Homo sapiens: one gene and its partners. The protein of the gene in region 1 interacts with the protein of each later gene in a biochemical or structural test. Each region holds a gene or a part of one and is shown in the gene's direction. Other genes may lie near its edges.

Region 1 (3,500 bases):
TAATCCAGTGTTCCCGCAACCAAAAAATGAGTGTCGGGGCCAGGCATGGTGGTTCAGCCTGTAATCCCAGCACTTTGGGAGGCTGAGGTGGGTAGATCACTGGAGATAAAGAGTTTGAGACCAGCCTGCTACACATAGTGAAACCCCGTCCCTACTAAAAATACAACAATTAGCCGGGCATGGTGGTTCAGGCCTGTAATCCCAGCTACTCGGGAGGCTGAGGCAGGAGAATTACTTGAACCCGGGAGGTGGAGGCTGCAGTGAGCCAAGATTATGCCATCGCGCTCCAGCCTGAGGGATAGAGCAAGACTCTGTCTCAAAAACAAACAAAAAAAGAGTGTCAGACTTGTACATTCTCTCATTGCCTCGTGCCTGATCTGAAGTCTGCACGAAGACCCGCCTTCACGGCTTAGCTGGTAAGCATGTGCTTTGTTTCCTGTCTAGTGTGTACTGTAAGCACGGTCACCTGTGTCCCATCGACACCGGCCTCATCGAGAAGAATATCGAACTCTTCTTTTCTGGTTCAGCAAAACCAATCTATGATGATGACCCATCTCTTGAAGGTAAGGAATAGTCCGGGATTATGTTTGGGGCACACTTTAAAAACAGCCAGGCAGGGTGGCTCACATCTGTAATCCTAGCACTTTGGGGGTCTGAGGCCAGAGGATCACTTGAGCCCGGGAGTTTGAGACGAGCCTGGACAACATAGCAAGAGCCTGCCTCTATTAAAAAAAAATATATAGCATATATATATAGTATACATATATACTTATATATATGTATAAATAAAAAACATACTTATGAAGCAATAGTCAGCTGGAGTTGCTGCTGCCTCTTAAAGTTAGGGTGTGAGACTTTGTGCCAGGAGCAGCTGTAGGCCAAGTCATTGTGATGACTGAGGAGCACCCGACCTGGCTGATGGGATGTCTGCTGAGTGGGCGCTTAGAGCGCCTCCTGGGTTTGGGATGTGAGTCAGAGCCTTTAGTCCATTTCCTTTTTCTGCTCTAGGTGGTGTTAATGGCAAAAATCTTGGCCCCATAAATGAATGGTGGATCACTGGCTTTGATGGAGGTGAAAAGGCCCTCATCGGCTTCAGCACCTGTAAGTGTGTGGCCCATCATAGGCTGGCCGGGGTCTGAAAGGGGCCTTCATGTTCTCCTTCCTGGGGGCTGACGGGGCTCTGGTGGGAATTCTCAGCAGGCTTGCAGAAGGCCATGTGACTGGGAACCTTAGCAGGTTCAGTTGGGGTAGCCTCTTGTGTTAGTTATGACTGGCTCTGGAACTGACTCTCCAGTTGTAAGAGCAGGTCTTGGCCGGATATGGTGGCTCACACCTGTAATCCCAGCACTTTGGGAGGCCGAGTTGGGGGGATCATTTGAGGCCAGGAATTCGAGACCAGCCTAGCCTGGCCAACATGGTGAAACCCCCTCTCTACCAAAAATACAAAAATTAGCCACGCATGGTGGTGCATACCTGTAATCCCAGCTACTTGGGAGGCTATGGCAGGAGAATCACGTGAACCCAGCAGACAGAGGTTGCAGTGAGCCGAGATCACGCCACTGCCCTCCAGCCTGGGTGACGGAGCAAGACTCTGTCCTCCCCTGAAAAAAAAAAAAGAGCAGGTCTTATTCTTGCAACCCAAACCCAGACTGAATTCCAAACACCAGAGATGAGCTCAATGAAGGCCTACTCAGCTAGTCTTCGCTCTCTGGCTGGCTCAGACAGGCTTCTTCAGAACAAGCCAGCTATGATGTGTTGTGCCCTATGTTTCTGACATTTGGGTACGGGATGACTTTTAGACTGTTGGGTGAGTTTGGTAGACTCCTCCATGCCCTGTGGCCACTGTAGGCGCCATCAGATTCCAGCCCCTTTTCCACACCTCCTCTGTTCACCCCAGCATTTGCCGAATACATTCTGATGGATCCCAGTCCCGAGTATGCGCCCATATTTGGGCTGATGCAGGAGAAGATCTACATCAGCAAGATTGTGGTGGAGTTCCTGCAGAGCAATTCCGACTCGACCTATGAGGACCTGATCAACAAGATCGAGGTAAGAGATCGAGGGTCCTCAGCATCCGGGATTCCCACTGGAAACTTGCCTTCAGAACCAGCAGACACTGTTCTTCAGTTGGATTTAGGCCAGTTTGGCTTAAGCATGAGAGAAACCTGTTCTCTTTCAAGACCACGGTTCCTCCTTCTGGCCTCAACTTGAACCGCTTCACAGAGGACTCCCTCCTGCGACACGCGCAGTTTGTGGTGGAGCAGGTGGAGAGTTATGACGAGGCCGGGGACAGTGATGAGCAGCCCATCTTCCTGACACCCTGCATGCGGGACCTGATCAAGCTGGCTGGGGTCACGCTGGGACAGAGGTAAGGATGCGGCAGGGACCAGAGTGAAGACTGGAGACCGGGGAGGGTAGAGCATGGCCCACATCCTCTGTCCCAGTCCTCTGAGATGCTGGAACCTCTCCCGTAGGCGAGCCCAGGCGAGGCGGCAGACCATCAGGCATTCTACCAGGGAGAAGGACAGGGGACCCACGAAAGCCACCACCACCAAGCTGGTCTACCAGATCTTCGATACTTTCTTCGCAGAGCAAATTGAAAAGGATGACAGAGAAGACAAGGAGAACGCCTTTAAGCGCCGGCGATGTGGCGTCTGTGAGGTAACCTCACCTGTGGGTGCTCCCGCTCCCCTAAGGTGGCCCAGCCTCTGGCCTGATCTGAGGACTGCTCCATCTTTCTCTCTGTGGCTTGAGACTCTGGCTGCTCAAATGTGACCCCTGAGACAGAAATTAGTTAGTGGTCTGGGAGGACCCTGCATACTTCATTGAACGTCAATAGGACAGATGTCCACAGAGGCATGCTTGGGTGCTTTGCTGATAATGCCACTGTCCTTAATTGAAGAGCCTGGCTTCTGGGTGGCTCTGCTGTGCCTGCATCTCACAGTCTGAAGGCCCCTGTTGGACTGCTAAAGGGGTATTCACATCTAAGTGGGCACTTTGTCCAGCTTAGATTTGAGGCCCTCAGGAGGCGTCCCTTTCTGTGAGTTTTTAAAATATATGTTTACTTCACTCAGGAGGAACTAACTTCCTAGTCCTATGACCCAAAGACCAGGACTATTTTGATACCTATTACCTGACTTTCTTTTGGATAAAGACTGGCTTCAGGGCTTTGCTTTTGATCCCCGCTGGCATCTCTTAACAGGAGCCTGCATGTCCTCACCATTGTTATTTTGGTTTTATTTTATTTTTCTTGGTTAACACACGTGTGTCCAATGTTTTATAACTTCTAAAATCTTTTTTTTTTTTTTTTAATTTTTTTGAGACAGTCTCTCTCTGTCACCCAGGCTAGAGTGCAGTGGCACCATCTCAGCTCACCGTAACCTCCGCCTCCCGGGTTCAATCAGTTCTCCCACCTCAGCCTCCCGAGTGGCTGGGATTATAGGCACCCGCCACCATACCCGGCTAATTTTTTTTGTATTTTTAGTAGAGATGGGGTTTCA
Region 2 (3,500 bases), on another chromosome or scaffold:
CAGAATTCTGGATCATAAACTCTACCTATAAATTTTTACATATGATTCTACCCTGTCACATTTGACAGGGCCACTTCCAGGATCTTTTGGACTTGACATTTTCTGAATGATTTATGGGGAGGAAAACAATAATGTAAAAAACTATCTTTGTAGGTTCCTGAATATCTACATCATGTTAACAAACGTCTAGAAGAAGAAGCAGACAGACTTATTACTTACTTAGATCAGACCACCCAGTAAGTACCACATGCTGAATTTAATAGTCTTAAACTGTCGTTAAATCACTTGCAGCACTTTAGCCATCCTAAACATGTTAGTAACTGTTTTCAGGTGTGATTTGAAGTGTTAACAGTTGTTTTCATAATACAAACTTCAAGTTATTCTTTTCCCTAGTTAATTAGTTTTCATCCAAGGATTCGATTATTAGGGGTGTGTGTGTGTGTGTGTGTGTGTGTGTGTGTGTGTGTTTAGAAGGTAATTTAGAAATAATACTAGAGGCTGATGTGACCTTTAAACTCTTCAGGCCAATTAAAATTCAGTGGATTCCCCTATTTCTGTGCTTTCCTAAGTATTAATATTGCCAGTCGAGGGGCCTCTGTATGTAGTACTTCTTTACCTTCCTAATAAAAGTAGCAAAACTTGGAAAAAGCCGACTACAGCAAGGTCTTGGAGATATTTATTTCGTTATGTAAACCAAATTCTAAAATATGCAGTGTTTTTTTAAAATTTTTGCCTGTCAGTTCCTTTATGTCTTTTTCTTTTAGGCATAAAGTATAGTAACTCTGAGCACCAATAAATTTATACATAGGATAGGAATCTTGAAATCAACATAAAATGAGCTATTTGATTTTTTTCCCCCCTCAGGAGAGGCTTTACATTTTCTGGAAGTCAAACGTCAATAATACTAACCTTTTTTTTTTTCCTTGTAGGAAGTCATTAATTGCTACTGTAGAAAAACAACTTCTAGGTGAACACTTAACAGCAATTCTTCAGAAAGGTAATTGGCAATTTGTAAATAAGAGATTGCTTTTTAAATGGTAGTGGCAAACTAGTAGGGAATTTTTAAAGATGTTGCCCTTTTAAAAGTTTGATAGCATGTGGCTGCATTTCTGAGGATGGACACAATCCTTATTAATCACAGTAAACTTCCTGGAGGTGCCAGTTTTCTTATCTGAAAGATACAGGAACTAGAAGAGAGGGATCCACAAATACCAATAAAAAAACAGTGGTTGATATGTGCCTGTAGTATCAGCTACTTGAGAGGCTGAGGCAGGAGGATTGCTTCAGCCCAGGAGTTTGAGGTCAGCCTGGGCAACATAGTGAGACTCTCGTCTCTTTAAATAAAATAAAAGAAAAAAAGTGGGAAATTCTTGACTTAATATGTAAGCTTTCAGTAAGGAAAGGTATTCCTTTTTACACTAAAGCGGTGAGGGTTTTTTGTTGTTCATGGCATGTCAAACCAAGCACTTCTAATCCCAAGTGAATTTAGAGTATACCCTACATTTTACTTTGAGAATGCCGCAAATAGGTAAAAGCCTTACCTTTCTCCCCAATAATATTTTCTTTTGTATAAAAATTTATATATTTAGAAATTTAATGCAGTTATACTGTTATTTCATCCTGGAAATCAAATATTTATTAGAGCCTCATTTAAATTTGACCTATTTATGCATGGCTTTTGATATATCACAGGCTATATCCAGTATTCTGAAATATAACTATGTACATAATATGGCTACTACATATATGAGGTATTTATAATGTATATTTATGTAAGCCAGTTTTTATAAGTTTGTTTTTGCCTCTAATCTATCATGCTAAATGGCACAAACCATTATGGAGTTAACCATTTTTCTTTTTCTTTTTAATTTTTTTAACTTTTTGAATTAAAATAGAGAGGGGGAGGGGGTCTTACTGTTGTGCCCAGGCTGGTCTTGACCTCCTGGCTTCAATTGATCCTCCTGCCTCAGCCTCCCAAAGTGCTGGGATTACAGGTGTGAGCCACCGTGCCTGGCCTGTTTTTATTTTTATAGCGACTAAAGTCTCTATATTTAGTTTTTACCCAGAAAGATGGTTGGGTTTAATTCAAAGGAAATCTTACATTACAACTCACATACAGACTAGTCATAGTTCAAACCAGTATCACAATAATGATTATAACTCAAATTTTATTAAAATGTCTGATAATCTTGTTCACTTTTTTGTTCACTATATTTTAATGCCAAAATGTTTTAAAATACAGGTTTAAATAACCTCCTTGATGAAAACCGAATTCAAGATTTGTCTCTTCTGTATCAGCTCTTCAGTAGAGTTCGAGGTGGAGTTCAGGTTCTTTTGCAGCAGTGGATCGAATATATCAAGGTATTAACAATTTACCTGTGATTTTTCTCTCTTATGGCTTATCTACACATCAAGAGTGCATATTGGCAAGCATTTCTTGTTTGATCCAATTTTTTTTTTTTTGAGACAGAGTTTTGCTCTCGTCACCCAGGCTGGAGTGCGGTGGCACGATCTTAGCTCGCTGCAACCTCTGCCTCCCAGGTTCAAGTGATTCTCCTGCCTCAGCCTCCCAAGTAGCTAGGATTACAGGCATGCACCACCATGCCTGGCTAATTTTGTATTTTTAGTAGAGACGGGGTTTCACCATGTTGGTCAGGCTGGCCTTGAACTCCTGAACTCAAATGATCCACCCGCCTTGGCCTCCCAAAGTGCTGGGATTACAGGCGTGAGCCACCACACCCGGACTTGATCCAGTTCTTTTAAGGGAATTTTAAATTTGTTTAAAAAGTAATGGGAATTTTGAGAACAGTCAACCTGAGAATGGTAGCTGTGTGGCATATCAGCTATAAAACCTGATTGATGGCTGACATAATTTCTGTCTCTACCACTTAAAGCAGTAAATGTAGAAAAAGACTTTGAACCCCAAATTTCTTTCCTTTCTTCAATCTTACACTAAAGCCAGATTGCCATTTTAAGGAAGTTGAAAGCTGACTTCTTTAAAAATAAGGAAAAGATCCCAGAGGCTTCTAATAATACCCTGTTATGATATCATATGCCCAGTGATCATTGCTTACTATTTTTGTGATTATAGATGAGTGGTTAACAGTGTGGATATTTAGCACTTTATTTTTTTGTCCTCATTTCACTATCAGCTTTATTTTGCCAGGTGCAGTGGTACATGCCTGTAACTCCAGCTACTTGGGAGGCTGAGGCAGGAGGATCCTTTCAGCCTAGGAGTTTCAGACTAGCCTGGGCAACATAGCAAGATTCCATCTTAAAAATAGCTTTATCTTACTTTTTAAAGATCTTTAAATATATATGCCACTTAAAATATGATTTGGGGATTGTTTTCATTGTAGACAATTCGATTACAGTAAAAAGTGGTAATTTTTTGTTTTAGGCATTTGGCAGCACTATTGTAATTAATCCTGAAAAAGATAAAACCATGGTTCAAGAATTGCTGGATTTTAAAGATAAGGTTGACCATATAATTGATATCT
Region 3 (3,500 bases), on another chromosome or scaffold:
TTGACAAGTATTTATTGAGCCCCATACCTGGCCCTGTGCCAGTGGCCAGTCAGTCGCCTGGGTGTTGTGTGTCTGTGTGTGTGAGGCAGGCAAAGTTGTATTAAAGGAACCTGAATTTTATTTTTTTCTTCTTTGATCATTTAAATTAAGTTGTATTAAAGTTGGCACAGATTGTAAGAGGAATCTAGAAGGAGCTACCCAAATAATTTTTGGGCACCAGAAATCGTCAGAGTTAGGAGGGTTTTAGTCTTCAGATTAAAGGAATGTAGCATAAACATAGTAGATTTTTATAATTGTTTAATGAGACTGCACATGAAGCTTGGGTATTAAGGGAGTGTTTAGAACTAGGGGCTATTGGAATGGTCAAGGACCATGGATATTGTTCCATCCAGACCCTTTATTCACACCGACTTTAAATATATACACTATTTAACAAATGAAAAATGGAAAAACAACTCAGTGGTGGTCTTTTTCAGTGCAAACAGCTATAACTTCGCTGTTAATACTTCCATTTCCTTGTCTATATAGTAGGGTAATAAGGTGGTTGTGAGGGTTGAGAGTCAGTGAGATGCCCAGTACAGCCCTTGCCACGTATCTTTCTGCAAGTTTTTGCATACGGTGATGAGTGAAGAACCTCCAAACCTCTCTCTGAAGGTCAAAACCGCTTTCCGGGATGCCGCTGCAAAGCACAGTGCAACACCAAGCAGTGCCCGTGCTACCTGGCTGTCCGAGAGTGTGACCCTGACCTCTGTCTTACTTGTGGAGCCGCTGACCATTGGGACAGTAAAAATGTGTCCTGCAAGAACTGCAGTATTCAGCGGGGCTCCAAAAAGGTGAGCAACAAGTCACTTCTGGAAGATTGTTTGTAGTTAGCTATTTAGTGATGCAAATGTCAGGATTGCCTTAGATGATTTAGCTGGGGCAAAAAGTAAAAGTGATCCTTGAAAGGTGCAACTGATGAGAAAGTGTTCATAATTTTCTCTGGGTAATGCACCCTTGGGCAGTCTCTTCAGTTTTATATAGAGCACCATACTCTGATAGTAGGAGAAACCAGCAAATTCTGAGAAGTAGCCATTCATGGTATCAGATTTAGGAATAAGAGGTATTTTTTCTACCTGTTTAATAGATTATTTGAATTTGTCTTTTAGTTAATAGTTTATCTAGTATCCTTAATGCAAATAAATGGTGATTTCTATCAAAATATAGACTCATTCTCATCAAAGAGTATTTATAGATTCCTTGCTATGTAGAGTAAAAGATGAAATTTCCCATGGCAGGTTTTTATAGACTTACTTCCTGTTTGTTTAATAACCTTGAAAAAAACCCAGCTAGGAACTATATATTTTTAGTCTGGGGAATTGTATGTAGGTGAGTTAACTCTATCAGCCAGGAAGTAATGATTGAGCAAAAGACACTTCAGCAGCATGTATTTGGGAAATTTCGTATCTTTTTTTTTTTTTTAGGGCAGATGATAAGTTCTTTCTTCAGTCAGTTCTTTTTATAATAATAGCTGACATTTATTAAGCATGTAAAAATAGGCACTGTTGTGAGTGCTTTAGTGGATTTGTTCATTGATTCTCCTAACCCTGTGAGTGAGGAGTAAGTGTTAACCCCCATTTTACGGGTAAGGAAACCCAAAGTCACAAGACTTGTAAAGGAGCAGGAGATCAAATCCTCCAGGCTCCCATTAACCTGCTCTTATGCTCTGTGTGTGTGTGTGTGTGTGTGTGTGTGTGTGTATGTGGGGTGTAGAGTAGACATATCTTTGTTGTTGGACCATTTATTTATAATTGAGAACACACTTCTTACCAGCAAGTCCCCTTCTACCAGAAATTCTGCTCCAGGCAAAACATTGAAGTTCTCTTGGTTTTGTTTGTGTCTTTGAACCAAAGTCTGTGTTTATGGCAGAGAGTTGTGCAGGGTGGTGGGCTTTTTGTTTTTAGCTTTGACTTTTTTCTTTTCTGTTAGACATTTAGATGATTTTACTCTAGGCAGTTATATGTCCATTTAGGTCATTGGATCACAGTGACTCTGGTTCCGTTTCCGATGGCATACCTGCTCAGACCTAAAAATCTCAATTTCCCCCCCAAACAACTTACCATTGTACTCCTTCCTCACTTTGTTCAGAAAGTGGGCAATTCTATTCATACTGACATGTCCTCTTTGTAAGACATTTTTTAACTCTTAAAAATGTTAAACTATGTAGATACCTTTTACCAGTTGGGTTTCATTTGCATAGCAGTATTTAGCTAATTTAGTTTCTGATCAGAAGGCTATTTGGGAAGTTCACATGACAGGTGAGTGGTAAGATGGTCCAGAATAGGAATAGATAGGAAGCCTTTGTAAAGGTCACAAGAAAATTTTGGATGAAAGCATAATACTGAGCCGTGATGAAAAATTGGCATATGTTGGGGAACACATCCCTAAATACATAATTTATAGCAATGATCATCTTGGCATTTCTGCTGAAAATAGACTACTGGACTGACAAGATCATGATAACACCTCCCGGTAGTTTCTTGTGTTATCCTGAGGAGGTGGGGTGGAAGAACAAATCCAAAGCCAAGCTGCTATGGGCTTCAGAGGGAACCAACGCCAGTGAAGAATCAGGGGGTGTCCTGGGGCTGAAAATGGAATAACTATTAATAGAATCACTTGGGGAAAGTAGAGGGAAAGGTATGGAGAGGAAGAGTGATTTGGTGGTGTCCTTATATTAAATTCAGGTTGAAAGTGAATTACTCGAGGAAATCAAGGGCTGAAGATACAGGGAAGCCAAAAGTGCAGCAGGCCTAGAGCACCTTGCTGAACGATGGTCATTGCAGAGGACCAACACCACCAAAAGGTTTTCTGTAAGACAGAGATTCTTATCTGCTGTATAAGGAAAACATAATGTTCATAGCCATTCTCAGCAGCTTTCACGTTGACTGAAGCTGTGTGCCCAATTACTGCCTTAGAACAAACAGGTCTGAGGATTTACAGTGATAGCTTTTGTTTTCATTCTGTAGTCTACTTTGTCCCCAGTCCATTTTCACCCTCCTTTTTTGATGATGTGATTGTGTTTTATTCTCTAGCATCTATTGCTGGCACCATCTGACGTGGCAGGCTGGGGGATTTTTATCAAAGATCCTGTGCAGAAAAATGAATTCATCTCAGAATACTGTGGAGAGGTAAGGCACTGATAACCTGTATTCAGGTGGCATTGTATATACTAACTTTACTTTATTTTAGATTGATTTTATTAGGTAAGTCTGTGGGTTTGATTGGAAATGAATTGCCATAAACTGCCTTTTCAGCCTGGACTTCTGCATGTTTGTGGATTTGCATGCTTAGTAACTGGATTGTGCTGGGCGCGGTGGCCGACTCCTGCAATCCCAGCACTTTGGGAGGCCGAGGCAGGTGGATTGCTTGAGCTCAGGAGTTGGAGACCAGCATGGGCAACATGGCAAGACCCCATTGCTACAAAAAATGCAAAAATTAGCCGGGCGTGGTGGTGCATACTT
Region 4 (3,235 bases), on another chromosome or scaffold:
ATATTTTAGGTTTATAATCAGAAAAAAGTTAAAATAGTTAATGAAGATGCTTTAAAAGCCTGTGTACTTTAGAGAAGCTACTTAACACAAATTGGGTATCTAATGTAGGCTGGGCTGGATACTTCATTTTCATCAAATCTTTTTAAAATAATTGGTGAAATAACCTTTATTGAATATGGTTTTCTACATTTTTCACACTTCCCTCCTTCATAGGGTTGTGAAAATTTATTTCATATTCTAGATGAGGAAATTGAGGCACAGAGGTACACTTACAAAGATACAATAAATGGCAGAACTAAGATTTGAACCCAGGACTAAGTGTATTGCTTGTATTTATTTAATTAATTAATTTTTAAGAGACAGGGCCTCACTCTGTTGCCTAGGCTGGCCCTTGAACTCCTGGGCTCAAGCAGTCCACCTGCCTCAGCCTCCTGAGTAGCTGGGACTGCAGGCACACCATGCCTCCCAGTTGTTTTTAAACACTAATAGTAGTCTTTCATAAGGACACTTATAATAAAGGCAGAGCTGGAACCCACACTTCATTCCAGACTGCTCAGACTGAGTTAGTGTTAGAAAACTGAAAGTAACATTTTTATTACTGTATTTCAGGTAATCAGTATCTGTTTTTGCCACCAAATCGTTACATTTTCCATGGCGCTGAGGTATATTCAGACTCTGAAGATGACGTCTTATCCTCTAGTTCTTGTGGCAGTAACAGTGATAGTGGGACATGCCAGAGTCCAAGTTTAGAAGAACCCATGGAGGATGAAAGTGAAATTGAAGAATTCTACAATGGCTTAGAAGATGAGCCTGATGTTCCAGAGAGAGCTGGAGGAGCTGGATTTGGGACTGATGGAGATGATCAAGAGGCAATTAATGAAGCTATATCTGTGAAACAGGAAGTAACAGACATGAACTATCCATCAAACAAATCATAGTGTAATAATTGTGCAGGTACAGGAATTGTTCCACCAGCATTAGGAACTTTAGCATGTCAAAATGAATGTTTACTTGTGAACTCGATAGAGCAAGGAAACCAGAAAGGTGTAATATTTATAGGTTGGTAAAATAGATTGTTTTTCATGGATAATTTTTAACTTCATTATTTCTGTACTTGTACAAACTCAACACTAACTTTTTTTTTTTTAAAAAAAAAAAGGTACTAAGTATCTTCAATCAGCTGTTGGTCAAGACTAACTTTCTTTTAAAGGTTCATTTGTATGATAAATTCATATGTGTATATATAATTTTTTTTGTTTTGTCTAGTGAGTTTCAACATTTTTAAAGTTTTCAAAAAGCCATCGGAATGTTAAATTAATGTAAAGGGAACAGCTAATCTAGACCAAAGAATGGTATTTTCACTTTTCTTTGTAACATTGAATGGTTTGAAGTACTCAAAATCTGTTACGCTAAACTTTTGATTCTTTAACACAATTATTTTTAAACACTGGCATTTTCCAAAACTGTGGCAGCTAACTTTTTAAAATCTCAAATGACATGCAGTGTGAGTAGAAGGAAGTCAACAATATGTGGGGAGAGCACTCGGTTGTCTTTACTTTTAAAAGTAATACTTGGTGCTAAGAATTTCAGGATTATTGTATTTACGTTCAAATGAAGATGGCTTTTGTACTTCCTGTGGACATGTAGCAATGTCTATATTGGCTCATAAAACTAACCTGAAAAACAAATAAATGCTTTGGAAATGTTTCAGTTGCTTTAGAAACATTAGTGCCTGCCTGGATCCCCTTAGTTTTGAAATATTTGCCATTGTTGTTTAAATACCTATCACTGTGGTAGAGCTTGCATTGATCTTTTCCACAAGTATTAAACTGCCAAAATGTGAATATGCAAAGCCTTTCTGAATCTATAATAATGGTACTTCTACTGGGGAGAGTGTAATATTTTGGACTGCTGTTTTCCATTAATGAGGAGAGCAACAGGCCCCTGATTATACAGTTCCAAAGTAATAAGATGTTAATTGTAATTCAGCCAGAAAGTACATGTCTCCCATTGGGAGGATTTGGTGTTAAATACCAAACTGCTAGCCCTAGTATTATGGAGATGAACATGATGATGTAACTTGTAATAGCAGAATAGTTAATGAATGAAACTAGTTCTTATAATTTATCTTTATTTAAAAGCTTAGCCTGCCTTAAAACTAGAGATCAACTTTCTCAGCTGCAAAAGCTTCTAGTCTTTCAAGAAGTTCATACTTTATGAAATTGCACAGTAAGCATTTATTTTTCAGACCATTTTTGAACATCACTCCTAAATTAATAAAGTATTCCTCTGTTGCTTTAGTATTTATTACAATAAAAAGGGTTTGAAATATAGCTGTTCTTTATGCATAAAACACCCAGCTAGGACCATTACTGCCAGAGAAAAAAATCGTATTGAATGGCCATTTCCCTACTTATAAGATGTCTCAATCTGAATTTATTTGGCTACACTAAAGAATGCAGTATATTTAGTTTTCCATTTGCATGATGTTTGTGTGCTATAGATGATATTTTAAATTGAAAAGTTTGTTTTAAATTATTTTTACAGTGAAGACTGTTTTCAGCTCTTTTTATATTGTACATAGTCTTTTATGTAATTTACTGGCATATGTTTTGTAGACTGTTTAATGACTGGATATCTTCCTTCAACTTTTGAAATACAAAACCAGTGTTTTTTACTTGTACACTGTTTTAAAGTCTATTAAAATTGTCATTTGACTTTTTTCTGTTAACTTACATTGTTTAAGGTATATAATTTTTAAGTCTTACAGAATTTGTACAGCTTCGAATGCTATAGTATTAGATGCTTTCTTTCTCATACTACATTTCTTCATTTGGTTTATTACATTAGTCTCACCAGACCAGTACTTGCAAAACCCTGATGGTGCTGATCGTAGCAGGTGATGCATCACCACCAAGCATTTCAAAAACTATTTCAGCCATTCTAGGCTAGAGGCCTGAGCAAGTAAAACATGGAGAAAAGGCAGGGCAGGGCCTAAGAAGGATGTGACATGTCCTATGATAAAGGACCAGGAGTTTGGGATTTGAGAGAGAACAGGAAGTGGTGGATAGTGAAAATCCATCTGATGCAAAGGCTGGGTTAACTGAAAATCTGTTCTGGGATGCTAGGTCTTTCAAGTCTGAAGACTGCAGACCACATTTGGTATCAACTTTCTGAGGCTGACCTGAGAACCTACTTAAGCCATTAAAGGTTTTGAGGGCGAAAGTATTACTGA

Evidence for each region. The genes of interacting proteins can lie anywhere in the genome.
Region 2: the proteins of DNMT1 (region 1) and CUL4B form a complex in vitro, tested with the Homo sapiens proteins (one study listed by BioGRID).
Region 3: the proteins of DNMT1 (region 1) and EZH2 form a complex in vitro, tested with the Homo sapiens proteins (one study listed by BioGRID).
Region 4: of the proteins of DNMT1 (region 1) and SIRT1, one has a biochemical effect on the other in vitro, tested with the Homo sapiens proteins (one study listed by BioGRID).

The regions. Positions count from the first base shown.
Region 1 is NC_000019.10:10,153,454-10,156,953, reverse strand, and holds part of DNMT1 (DNA (cytosine-5)-methyltransferase 1), read left to right. Parts: intron 1-444; coding exon 445-563; intron 564-1,008; coding exon 1,009-1,101; intron 1,102-1,897; coding exon 1,898-2,049; intron 2,050-2,180; coding exon 2,181-2,368; intron 2,369-2,474; coding exon 2,475-2,661; intron 2,662-3,500. UniProt on the Homo sapiens protein: Methylates CpG residues. Preferentially methylates hemimethylated DNA. Associates with DNA replication sites in S phase maintaining the methylation pattern in the newly synthesized strand, that is essential for epigenetic inheritance.
Region 2 is NC_000023.11:120,540,463-120,543,962, reverse strand, and holds part of CUL4B (cullin-4B), read left to right. Parts: intron 1-153; coding exon 154-236; intron 237-929; coding exon 930-997; intron 998-2,242; coding exon 2,243-2,361; intron 2,362-3,400; coding exon 3,401-3,500.
Region 3 is NC_000007.14:148,811,292-148,814,791, reverse strand, and holds part of EZH2 (histone-lysine N-methyltransferase EZH2), read left to right. Parts: intron 1-654; coding exon 655-833; intron 834-3,071; coding exon 3,072-3,167; intron 3,168-3,500. UniProt on the Homo sapiens protein: Polycomb group (PcG) protein. Catalytic subunit of the PRC2/EED-EZH2 complex, which methylates 'Lys-9' (H3K9me) and 'Lys-27' (H3K27me) of histone H3, leading to transcriptional repression of the affected target gene.
Region 4 is NC_000010.11:67,915,656-67,918,890, forward strand, and holds the end of SIRT1 (NAD-dependent protein deacetylase sirtuin-1), read left to right. Parts: intron 1-609; coding exon 610-938; 3' UTR 939-2,735; downstream 2,736-3,235. UniProt on the Homo sapiens protein: NAD-dependent protein deacetylase that links transcriptional regulation directly to intracellular energetics and participates in the coordination of several separated cellular functions such as cell cycle, response to DNA damage, metabolism, apoptosis and autophagy.